Linked DNA regions of Homo sapiens: all the other regions are reported to be linked to region 1. The links are microRNA targets in miRTarBase. Many come from high-throughput screens and were not tested one by one. Region 1 holds a microRNA gene; each other region holds the end of a gene's coding sequence. Distances are from middle to middle.

Evidence for each region. Region 1 holds the annotated microRNA hsa-miR-548ao-3p (AAAGACCGUGACUACUUUUGCA, at 2,066-2,087, shown strand). A microRNA usually pairs through its seed, bases 2 to 8, with sites in the 3' UTR of a target mRNA and lowers its output. Matches are read on the target gene's strand: a 7mer-m8 pairs with bases 2 to 8, a 7mer-A1 pairs with bases 2 to 7 and ends in A, and an 8mer does both.
Region 2: miRTarBase lists ZNF107 as a target of hsa-miR-548ao-3p. The part of its 3' UTR that is shown has no 7-base or 8-base seed match.
Region 3: the mRNA of TNFRSF10D is a reported target of hsa-miR-548ao-3p. Seed matches in the 3' UTR shown: 7mer-m8 at 2,542-2,548.

Annotation. Positions count from the first base shown.
Region 1 is chr8:41,269,893-41,273,151 of GRCh38, reverse strand. MIR548AO (microRNA 548ao) reads left to right here and starts at 2,009; the gene lies at 2,009-2,104. The region is part of intron 2 of SFRP1 (secreted frizzled related protein 1); the gene reads left to right. It also overlaps the pseudogene RPS29P2.
Region 2 is chr7:64,708,318-64,711,576 of GRCh38, forward strand. ZNF107 (zinc finger protein 107) reads left to right here. Exons shown (of 4, transcript NM_001282359.2): 4 at 1-3,259. The coding sequence ends at 339. Among named protein-coding and RNA genes, the nearest start is that of MIR6839, 31 kb to the left of the region's middle.
Region 3 is chr8:23,135,281-23,138,539 of GRCh38, reverse strand. TNFRSF10D (TNF receptor superfamily member 10d) reads left to right here. Exons shown (of 9, transcript NM_003840.5): 8 at 280-352; 9 at 537-2,952. The coding sequence ends at 670. Among named protein-coding and RNA genes, the nearest start is that of TNFRSF10D, 27 kb to the left of the region's middle.

The DNA of each region.
Region 1 (3,259 bases):
GTAGTTTCCTAAGAAAAGATACATGGGAGATGATGTTTTAAAACCTGTTAATGCCTGAAGATGTTTTCATTCTACTCTTGCATGCTGATTGATAGCTTGCCTCAGTATCAAATTTGGCAATTTTAAAGGCATTGATTCATTATCCTCCAGTTTCCAGTGTCTGTATTGATAAATCCAGTGCAACTGGGATACTGATCCTTTGTATTAGATGTCTACCCTTTTCTCTTGAAGATTTTAAAAGTTCTTTTTGTCTTTCATATTTGTAAATGTCATGATTCTTTGAGCTGGGTGTTGTTTAACCTGAGGACTCATGTTCTTCATTTCTGGAAAGTTTTCTTGTATTATTTCTTTGGTATTTTCTGCCGTTTGTTTTCTTGTTCTCTCTTGCTATAATACCCTTTTCTCAGATGTTGAAACTCTTGGATTGATTCTCTTTTTCTTTCCTCTGTTTCCCATCTGTTTGTCATTTTGTTCATCTTTTCATGAAATTTCTTCAACCTTATCTTTTAAAAAAAATTTAAAAAATATTCTTGAAAAAATTTTTTGAGACAGTCTGGCTCTGTCACCTAGGCTGGAGTGCAGTGGTGTAATCTCAGCTCACTGCAACCTCTGCCTCCTGAGTTCAAGCAATTCTCCTACCTCACCCTCCCAATTAGCAGGAATTATAGGCACATGCCACCACACAGGCTAATTTTTGTATTTTCAGTAGAGACGGGGTTTCGCCACGTTGGCCAGGCTGGTCGGGTCTTGGACTCTTGGCCCCAAGTGATCCACCTGCCTTGGCCTCCCAAAGTGCTGGGATTACAGGCGTGAGCCACCGTGCCTGGCCTCTTTAACCTTATCTTAAAACCATTATTTATTGATTTTCTGTTATTGAAGTTAAAGATTTATCTCTTTTACACTATCTTTCCAATATAATTACATCACACTTTTGGTTAATATTGAATGTTTAATTTATTAGAATTATGTAAATATTATTTGCAGCTGAGCCATGTAGTGTACTGCATATTTATTTCCTTTCTTTCACATCTTTTTACTTGTCTTGCATTTTATATTTCTTCTCTTATATTTTAAATTTCCAAGTAATCTTTCCCAGTCTCTGAACATTCCTTTTAATAGCTTTCTGTTCTTGTTTTAGGAATACAAAAGTCTTATCTAATTTATTATCATTTAAAACAATTTTTTTTGAGGCAGGGTCTCACTCTGTCACCCAGGCTGGAGCGCAGGGGTGCAGTCATAGCTCACTGCAGCCTCAATCTCCCCAGACTCAGCTGATCTTCTCATCTCAGCTTCCTGAGTAGCTGGGACTACAGGCATGCACCACCATGCCTGGCTAATTTTTTTTTTTTGGTAGAGATGGGGTCTCACTATATTGCCCAGGCTGGTCTCTAACTCTTGGGTTCAAGTGATCTGCTTGCCTCAGCCTCCCAAAGTGCTGAGATTACAGGTGCGGGCCACCACTCCTGGCCATATTATCATTTTTTAAAGTTTTTTTTTTAAAATTTTATTTTATGTACAGAGAGCTAGCATGGTTTCTTTCACTTGGTGGATGCCTTGGATAATCCATTCAGGGAAGCTCACTTAGTCTAACCTAATGAAGCCTACCTCCTCTGCATACTGATGGAAACACTGGCAGCACATATTGAGGCCATAATGACAAGAATGAGAACCCTGGCCGAATTTTTTTGGATGGCTCCAGGAGAGCTGCTGGTGACCCATCTTGCTTTTAGGAGTGCAACAAGGCAAAAAGTGAAAAGTTTTTTTTTTTAATACTCCCTGCATTGTCTCTGTTATCTCTGAATTCCTTTTCTTCCTTTTCTGTTTTGTATGTTACAGTCTCTGCCATTCACATTTGGAGGCTTTCCTTAAATACTTGCCAGCCCTTGACTGTCCATTTGAATTTAACAGCGAGACATGACGTTGGAAGCTCTTTGTGTACATGCAGGGCCTGTGATTTGTTAGGCCTCACTTGAGAATTTTGCAGAGGGCCCATATGTCTTTTCTTTTGAACTATTCTTAGGTTGATGCAGAAGTAACTACGGTTTTTGCAGTTGAAAGTAATGGCAAAGACCGTGACTACTTTTGCAACAGCCTAATAGTTTCTTTAGAGAAAAACCACTCAATCCTCTGACACAGGCATATAAATGTAGTGTTCTAAGACCCGAGTGTCTCATTCTTCACTTTGCAGACTTTCATGTAACCCTTTGGTGTTCACGCAGCAGCACCTGTCCGGTCCTCCTCTGTGTCTAGTATACCCCAGCGGCAGGCTGTGTGCAGGTTCAGGCCTTCTTTTTTTCCCCCTTTTCTTTTCTTTTTCTTTTTTTTTTTTTGAGATGGAGTCTTGCTCTGTCACCCAGGCTGGAGTGCAGTGTGCGCTCTCGGCTCACTGCAATCTCCACCTCCCGGGTTCAAGCGATTCTCCTACCTCCAGCCTCCCAAGTAGCTGGAACTACAGGCCTTCTGTATGGAATGAAGCCCATGGCTACTGCTGGAGTTGGTGAGGGCAGCCACCTGGACTCATGGCCCAGGGGAGTAGGTTTGAGTGTCCATATGTAAACTTGCTGCCAATCCCAACATTGACAGCCTCTGTGATGGAGTTCAGGAGTGTCCGGGGGCCCCAATCAGGAGCATTTGTGGGACCTGGAGTGCAAATGGGCTTGTTTTTTACTGGCATCCCTGTCTGTCCCTCTTTTTCTTCTTTTCTCTGCACTTTACTGGCATCCCTATCTGCATTTTAGCTTTTCTTCTCCCTTTTAAGCCAGATTCTACCATCCATTTGCTTTCTGTCATACAAAATGTTGATATGTTCTTTTTTCCTTTACCACTTTCTTGCATGTGTTTATAACTTGTTTTTTTGACTCTAATTTTAAACTGACTTCAAGAAGAGTGGGAATGATTGCACGGGCTCAGTCTAATCCATGTGGCTAGCGTGCCTGCAAGTGCTCCTTCGCACTCAGTCCAGAAGCTTGGTGATATGGCTTCTCTCTTCTTTTCCCTTCCCATTGGATTTTTGCTCTCTGGAATTTGCCCTCACCACTCCAGATCCTGGCCTCCTATGGGTTGGCGTGGCCCCCTAATCACCCAGTGAAGTGCTCTAGTTTCAGACTCATTCTTAAGCTCTTCGGCACTTAGGGTTGAGGGGTGTTTCCTCCATTTAAATGGACCCTGTGGTCTTCATTGACACTGGGCTGCCTGGTTTCCCAGCGGGGCCTCCCGTGGCATTTACAGTAACTCTTCTTCCTTTCACCTGACGAAGGCG
Region 2 (3,259 bases), not on the chromosome of region 1:
GCTTTTAACCTATCCTCAACCCTTACTGCACATAAGAAAATTCATACTGGAGAGAAACCCTATAAATGTGAAGAATGTGGCAAAGCTTTTAACCAATCCTCAAACCTTACTACACATAAGAAAATTCATACTTCAGAGAAACCCTACAAATGTGAAGAATGTGGCAAATCCTTTAACCAGTTCTCATCTCTTAATATACATAAGATAATTCATACTGGAGAGAAACCCTACAAATGTGGAGATTATGGCAGAGCTTTCAACCTATCCTCAAATCTTACTACACATAAGAAAATTCATACTGGAGAGAAACCCTACAAATGTGAGTATGGCAAAACTTAATTGATCCTACAAGCTTACTACACATAGGAAAATTCATACTGGAGAGAAACTACAAATGTGAAGAATGTGTTAAAGCCTTTAACAAGTCTTCAACTTTTTCTGCACACACGAGGTATTTTATACTGGTGAGAAACCTTACAATGTAAAGAATGTGGCACAGCTTTTAACTAATCTTCAAACCTTACTGAAAGTTGAGAAAATTCGTACTGGAGAGAATCCTACAAATGTGAAAAATGTGGCAAATCCTTTAACTGATCCTCAACTTTTACTAAACATAAGGTAATTCATACTGGAGAAAAGCCATACAAATGAGAAGAATGTGGCAATGCCTTTAATCAGTCCTCACACCTTTCTACACATAAGATAATTTATACTGGAGAGGAACTCTATAGTTGTGAAGAATGTGGCAAAGCTTTTAACCAATCCTCATACCTTACTATACAGAAATTCATACTGGAGAGAAAGCCTACAATTGTGAAGAATGTGGCAAAGCTTTTAACCTTCCTTAACCCTTAACTGTAGATAAGAAAATTCATACTGGAAAGAAACCCTACAAATGTGAAGTCTGTGGCAAAGCTTTTAACTGATTCTCAACTCTTACTACATGTAAGAGTATTTATACTGGAAAGAAACCCTACAAATGTAAAAAACGTGGCAATGCCTTTAACTGGTCCTCACACCTTGCTACATATAAGACAGTTTATACTTTGAGAGAAACCCTGCAAATGTGAATAATGTGGCAATACTTTAAACCAATCCTCAAACCTCACTAAACATAAGATAATACTGAAAACTTTACAAACCTGAATGATGTGACAATAATTTTGACAACACCTCGAACTTTCTAACATAAATCATACTGGTGAAAAATCCTAGAAATGTGAAAAATATCACAAAGCCTTTAAATGGTTGTCACACTTGATTGTAGGTAAGAATCCATACTGAAGAAAACTCCTGGAAGTGTAAAAAATGTGGCAACACTTTTAATAAATGCTCACCCCTTATTGCACAGGAAAGCATTTATACTTCAGAAAGATTGTACAAATACAAGGAATGTGGAAAAGCCATTATTATCTGCTCAGATTTTACTCAACATTAGAGAGTTAGTACGTAATAAAAGCATTATAAATGCAATTTTTGTCAAGAGATCTTTCAGAAAATATAAGCCTTTAAAGTGAAGAAGAGGAGCCAGTTGTGCTGGCTCACATCTGTAATGCCAGCACTTTGGGAGGCCAAGGTGGGTGGATCACCTGAGGGCAGGAGTCTGAGACCAGCCTGGCCAACATAGCAAAACCCCATCTCTATTAAAAATTTTACAAAAATTAGCTGCGTGTGGTGGCAGGCCCCTGTAATCCCAGCTAATTGGGAGGCTGAAGCAGGAGAATTGCTCAAACCTGGGAGGCGAAGATTGCAGTGAGCTGAAATCACACCACTACACTCCAGCCAAAGCAACAAGAGCAAAAACTTCGTCTCAAAAACAAAACAAAAAAAGAGTATTCATTGTGAGGACAAACAATACAAATACGAAGAGGGTTGTAGTACCTTTACTTGTATCACAGATACTTTTGTACCCATTTTGCACTAGAGGAAAACCATGAAGCAGTTGCTCAAATGTTGTTCAACACCAGAAAATTTATATTGGAGAAAAGCACTGTAAATGTAATGCATTTGTGAAAACATTTTTTAAAAAACTACAGCTTAGAAAATACCAGAGGCCTCATACTAAAATATATTTTTGCAAGTGAAGTAAATATAAAAATAATTTAATCCAAAATTAAGTCTATATAAATATCAGAGAATTCACAGTAGAAATATCTAAGGTACTGACACTTCAGACATTGCTGAGTATAGAATCAGAATGCTGAGTATAGAAAATAATTTAAAACTAAAGTTGGTAGGTAAATAATGTGTATATAACTTTAAAAGAAGTAGAATTTTTTTGTAGATGTATAATTACATTCAAATTATATTTTTTCTTGAAAAATTAGTTTTTGAAAAGCAAATGATGTAATTCAACTCAAATTCATGCTCTTCATTCCTATTGTATTCACATGTGAAAGCATGTGATTAATTTTTCATGCATCAAAGATATGAGAAATCATTTCTGTTAGGTCGGTATTATTTATGACACTTTCTATGAAAGAATAAGGACATTAAAATGTAAGATGCATGATGAAAACCTGAGTGAAGAGGCTGTTTGTGTTTAACTTATAATATTGAGTGATCCATGAAGTAGGTTTTCAGAGCAATATTCTTCTGCATTATAGTAAGAGAAAACCATTTTTAATCTTAGTTAAAATTAAAGTGAATTAGTAGTATATCATTTTACTATTTGTACTTTTATGTAATAAAATGCAATGTGTTTAAAAATTTTTGGATTATGCGTGAACTTAGTTTTTTAATTAAACTTTTTTTAACATGTTAAAACTATTGTGCATTCAATGAAGTGTTTTCATGCCACTGACTTTACCTATCCCACATTACTCAAGGGTTTAGGTAAAAGAGGGTAACAGTATACTACTTGATAACATAATGGGCTAACATCTCTAATAATTATTTTTGCTAGTGACTTTAAACTGCTAATAAAGAATATTGTTCCCATAGGTTAGATTTTTATTCTTTTTAAAATTTAAACTTATTTCTCTTAATTTTTGTGGATACATAGTATGTGTATATCTTTATGCCATGTATGGCATATTTTGATACAGGCATATAATTTTATGTATTAATCACATCAGGGCAAAAGATGTATCCATCAACTCCAGCATTTCTCCTTTGTATTACAAACCAATTCTGCACTTTTAGATACTTTAGAATGTACAGTCGTTACTACAGGGTCATTTTATGGTTATAATAAAAATTATATACAAGTATAAATAAACCATGAGAAAATTCTGAGTTCTGAATAAACATTTAAAAA
Region 3 (3,259 bases), 18 Mb from region 1:
GGCAGTTTCTATGTCTTGATCAGGGGATAATTACACAGGCCTATAGTCAAAGTTGGTCAGAACACTTACAAAGTGAGCATTTACTGCATGTCACTTATGTCTCAATGAGCCACCAGCACACAGAGCCCAAGAGCTATGGAGGACCAGAGGTTTGTCTCCATCTCCATGGAGACCCAAGAGGGAAAGCGCTGCAGGTCTCTTGCTGGCTAGTGGTCAGGGTCAGTACTAGACTGCAGGACTCCTGACTCTGACCAGAGCATTCCCCACTGTGTGTTACAGGAACAGGCAGAAGCTGAAGGGTGTCAGAGGAGGAGGCTGCTGGTTCCAGTGAATGACGCTGACTCCGCTGACAGTAAGTGTTTTGTGCCTTGAGACGCAGCAGGAGGACAGGGAATAGGGACGGTGTCCTAACTGCTGTCCCTATAGCTGAGAGGGCTCTTCTGGAGGTTTCACTGCTGGAAGCAGGGGGCCCCATGTCGATCCTGTGCTGATCGTCCTTGGAGCATTGAGACCCTAAATCTCTTCTCTCTTCTCAGTCAGCACCTTGCTGGATGCCTCGGCAACACTGGAAGAAGGACATGCAAAGGAAACAATTCAGGACCAACTGGTGGGCTCCGAAAAGCTCTTTTATGAAGAAGATGAGGCAGGCTCTGCTACGTCCTGCCTGTGAAAGAATCTCTTCAGGAAACCAGAGCTTCCCTCATTTACCTTTTCTCCTACAAAGGGAAGCAGCCTGGAAGAAACAGTCCAGTACTTGACCCATGCCCCAACAAACTCTACTATCCAATATGGGGCAGCTTACCAATGGTCCTAGAACTTTGTTAACGCACTTGGAGTAATTTTTATGAAATACTGCGTGTGATAAGCAAACGGGAGAAATTTATATCAGATTCTTGGCTGCATAGTTATACGATTGTGTATTAAGGGTCGTTTTAGGCCACATGCGGTGGCTCATGCCTGTAATCCCAGCACTTTGATAGGCTGAGGCAGGTGGATTGCTTGAGCTCGGGAGTTTGAGACCAGCCTCATCAACACAGTGAAACTCCATCTCAATTTAAAAAGAAAAAAAGTGGTTTTAGGATGTCATTCTTTGCAGTTCTTCATCATGAGACAAGTCTTTTTTTCTGCTTCTTATATTGCAAGCTCCATCTCTACTGGTGTGTGCATTTAATGACATCTAACTACAGATGCCGCACAGCCACAATGCTTTGCCTTATAGTTTTTTAACTTTAGAACGGGATTATCTTGTTATTACCTGTATTTTCAGTTTCGGATATTTTTGACTTAATGATGAGATTATCAAGACGTAGCCCTATGCTAAGTCATGAGCATATGGACTTACGAGGGTTCGACTTAGAGTTTTGAGCTTTAAGATAGGATTATTGGGGCTTACCCCCACCTTAATTAGAGAAACATTTATATTGCTTACTACTGTAGGCTGTACATCTCTTTTCCGATTTTTGTATAATGATGTAAACATGGAAAAACTTTAGGAAATGCACTTATTAGGCTGTTTACATGGGTTGCCTGGATACAAATCAGCAGTCAAAAATGACTAAAAATATAACTAGTGACGGAGGGAGAAATCCTCCCTCTGTGGGAGGCACTTACTGCATTCCAGTTCTCCCTCCTGCGCCCTGAGACTGGACCAGGGTTTGATGGCTGGCAGCTTCTCAAGGGGCAGCTTGTCTTACTTGTTAATTTTAGAGGTATATAGCCATATTTATTTATAAATAAATATTTATTTATTTATTTATAAGTAGATGTTTACATATGCCCAGGATTTTGAAGAGCCTGGTATCTTTGGGAAGCCATGTGTCTGGTTTGTCGTGCTGGGACAGTCATGGGACTGCATCTTCCGACTTGTCCACAGCAGATGAGGACAGTGAGAATTAAGTTAGATCCGAGACTGCGAAGAGCTTCTCTTTCAAGCGCCATTACAGTTGAACGTTAGTGAATCTTGAGCCTCATTTGGGCTCAGGGCAGAGCAGGTGTTTATCTGCCCCGGCATCTGCCATGGCATCAAGAGGGAAGAGTGGACGGTGCTTGGGAATGGTGTGAAATGGTTGCCGACTCAGGCATGGATGGGCCCCTCTCGCTTCTGGTGGTCTGTGAACTGAGTCCCTGGGATGCCTTTTAGGGCAGAGATTCCTGAGCTGCGTTTTAGGGTACAGATTCCCTGTTTGAGGAGCTTGGCCCCTCTGTAAGCATCTGACTCATCTCAGAGATATCAATTCTTAAACACTGTGACAACAGGATCTAAAATGGCTGACACATTTGTCCTTGTGTCACGTTCCATTATTTTATTTAAAAACCTCAGTAATCGTTTTAGCTTCTTTCCAGCAAACTCTTCTCCACAGTAGCCCAGTCGTGGTAGGATAAATTACGGATATAGTCATTCTAGGGGTTTCAGTCTTTTCCATCTCAAGGCATTGTGTGTTTTGTTCCGGGACTGGTTTGGCTGGGACAAAGTTAGAACTGCCTGAAGTTCGCACATTCAGATTGTTGTGTCCATGGAGTTTTAGGAGGGGATGGCCTTTCCGGTCTTCGCACTTCCATCCTCTCCCACTTCCATCTGGCGTCCCACACCTTGTCCCCTGCACTTCTGGATGACACAGGGTGCTGCTGCCTCCTAGTCTTTGCCTTTGCTGGGCCTTCTGTGCAGGAGACTTGGTCTCAAAGCTCAGAGAGAGCCAGTCCGGTCCCAGCTCCTTTGTCCCTTCCTCAGAGGCCTTCCTTGAAGATGCATCTAGACTACCAGCCTTATCAGTGTTTAAGCTTATTCCTTTAACATAAGCTTCCTGACAACATGAAATTGTTGGGGTTTTTTGGCGTTGGTTGATTTGTTTAGGTTTTGCTTTATACCCGGGCCAAATAGCACATAACACCTGGTTATATATGAAATACTCATATGTTTATGACCAAAATAAATATGAAACCTCATATTAAAAAGGTGTGGTGTTCGTTTATTTCCATCCTCCTCTCCTGCTGTGACACAGCTCTGAGTGACAGGAGGCCAGGGCTTCGTTCCTGCTGGGCCTCCTTACTTGTCCCTTCTCTGCCTTCAGGCTTGGCCCGCCTGGCGGTGGGGGTGTGGGGGGAGTTTCCTGCCTATGACTCCCTGGATTTTAAAGGACCAGGTTCTTGGCTACTGGAATTCGCGCCTCCTCCCTGTTTCTCTCCTGTCTGCTCCTCCCTCTGGGGAGAGGGACAGCAGCCCTTCCCTGTATCCCCATCAGTGGACCCAGGTTGCTCAGCC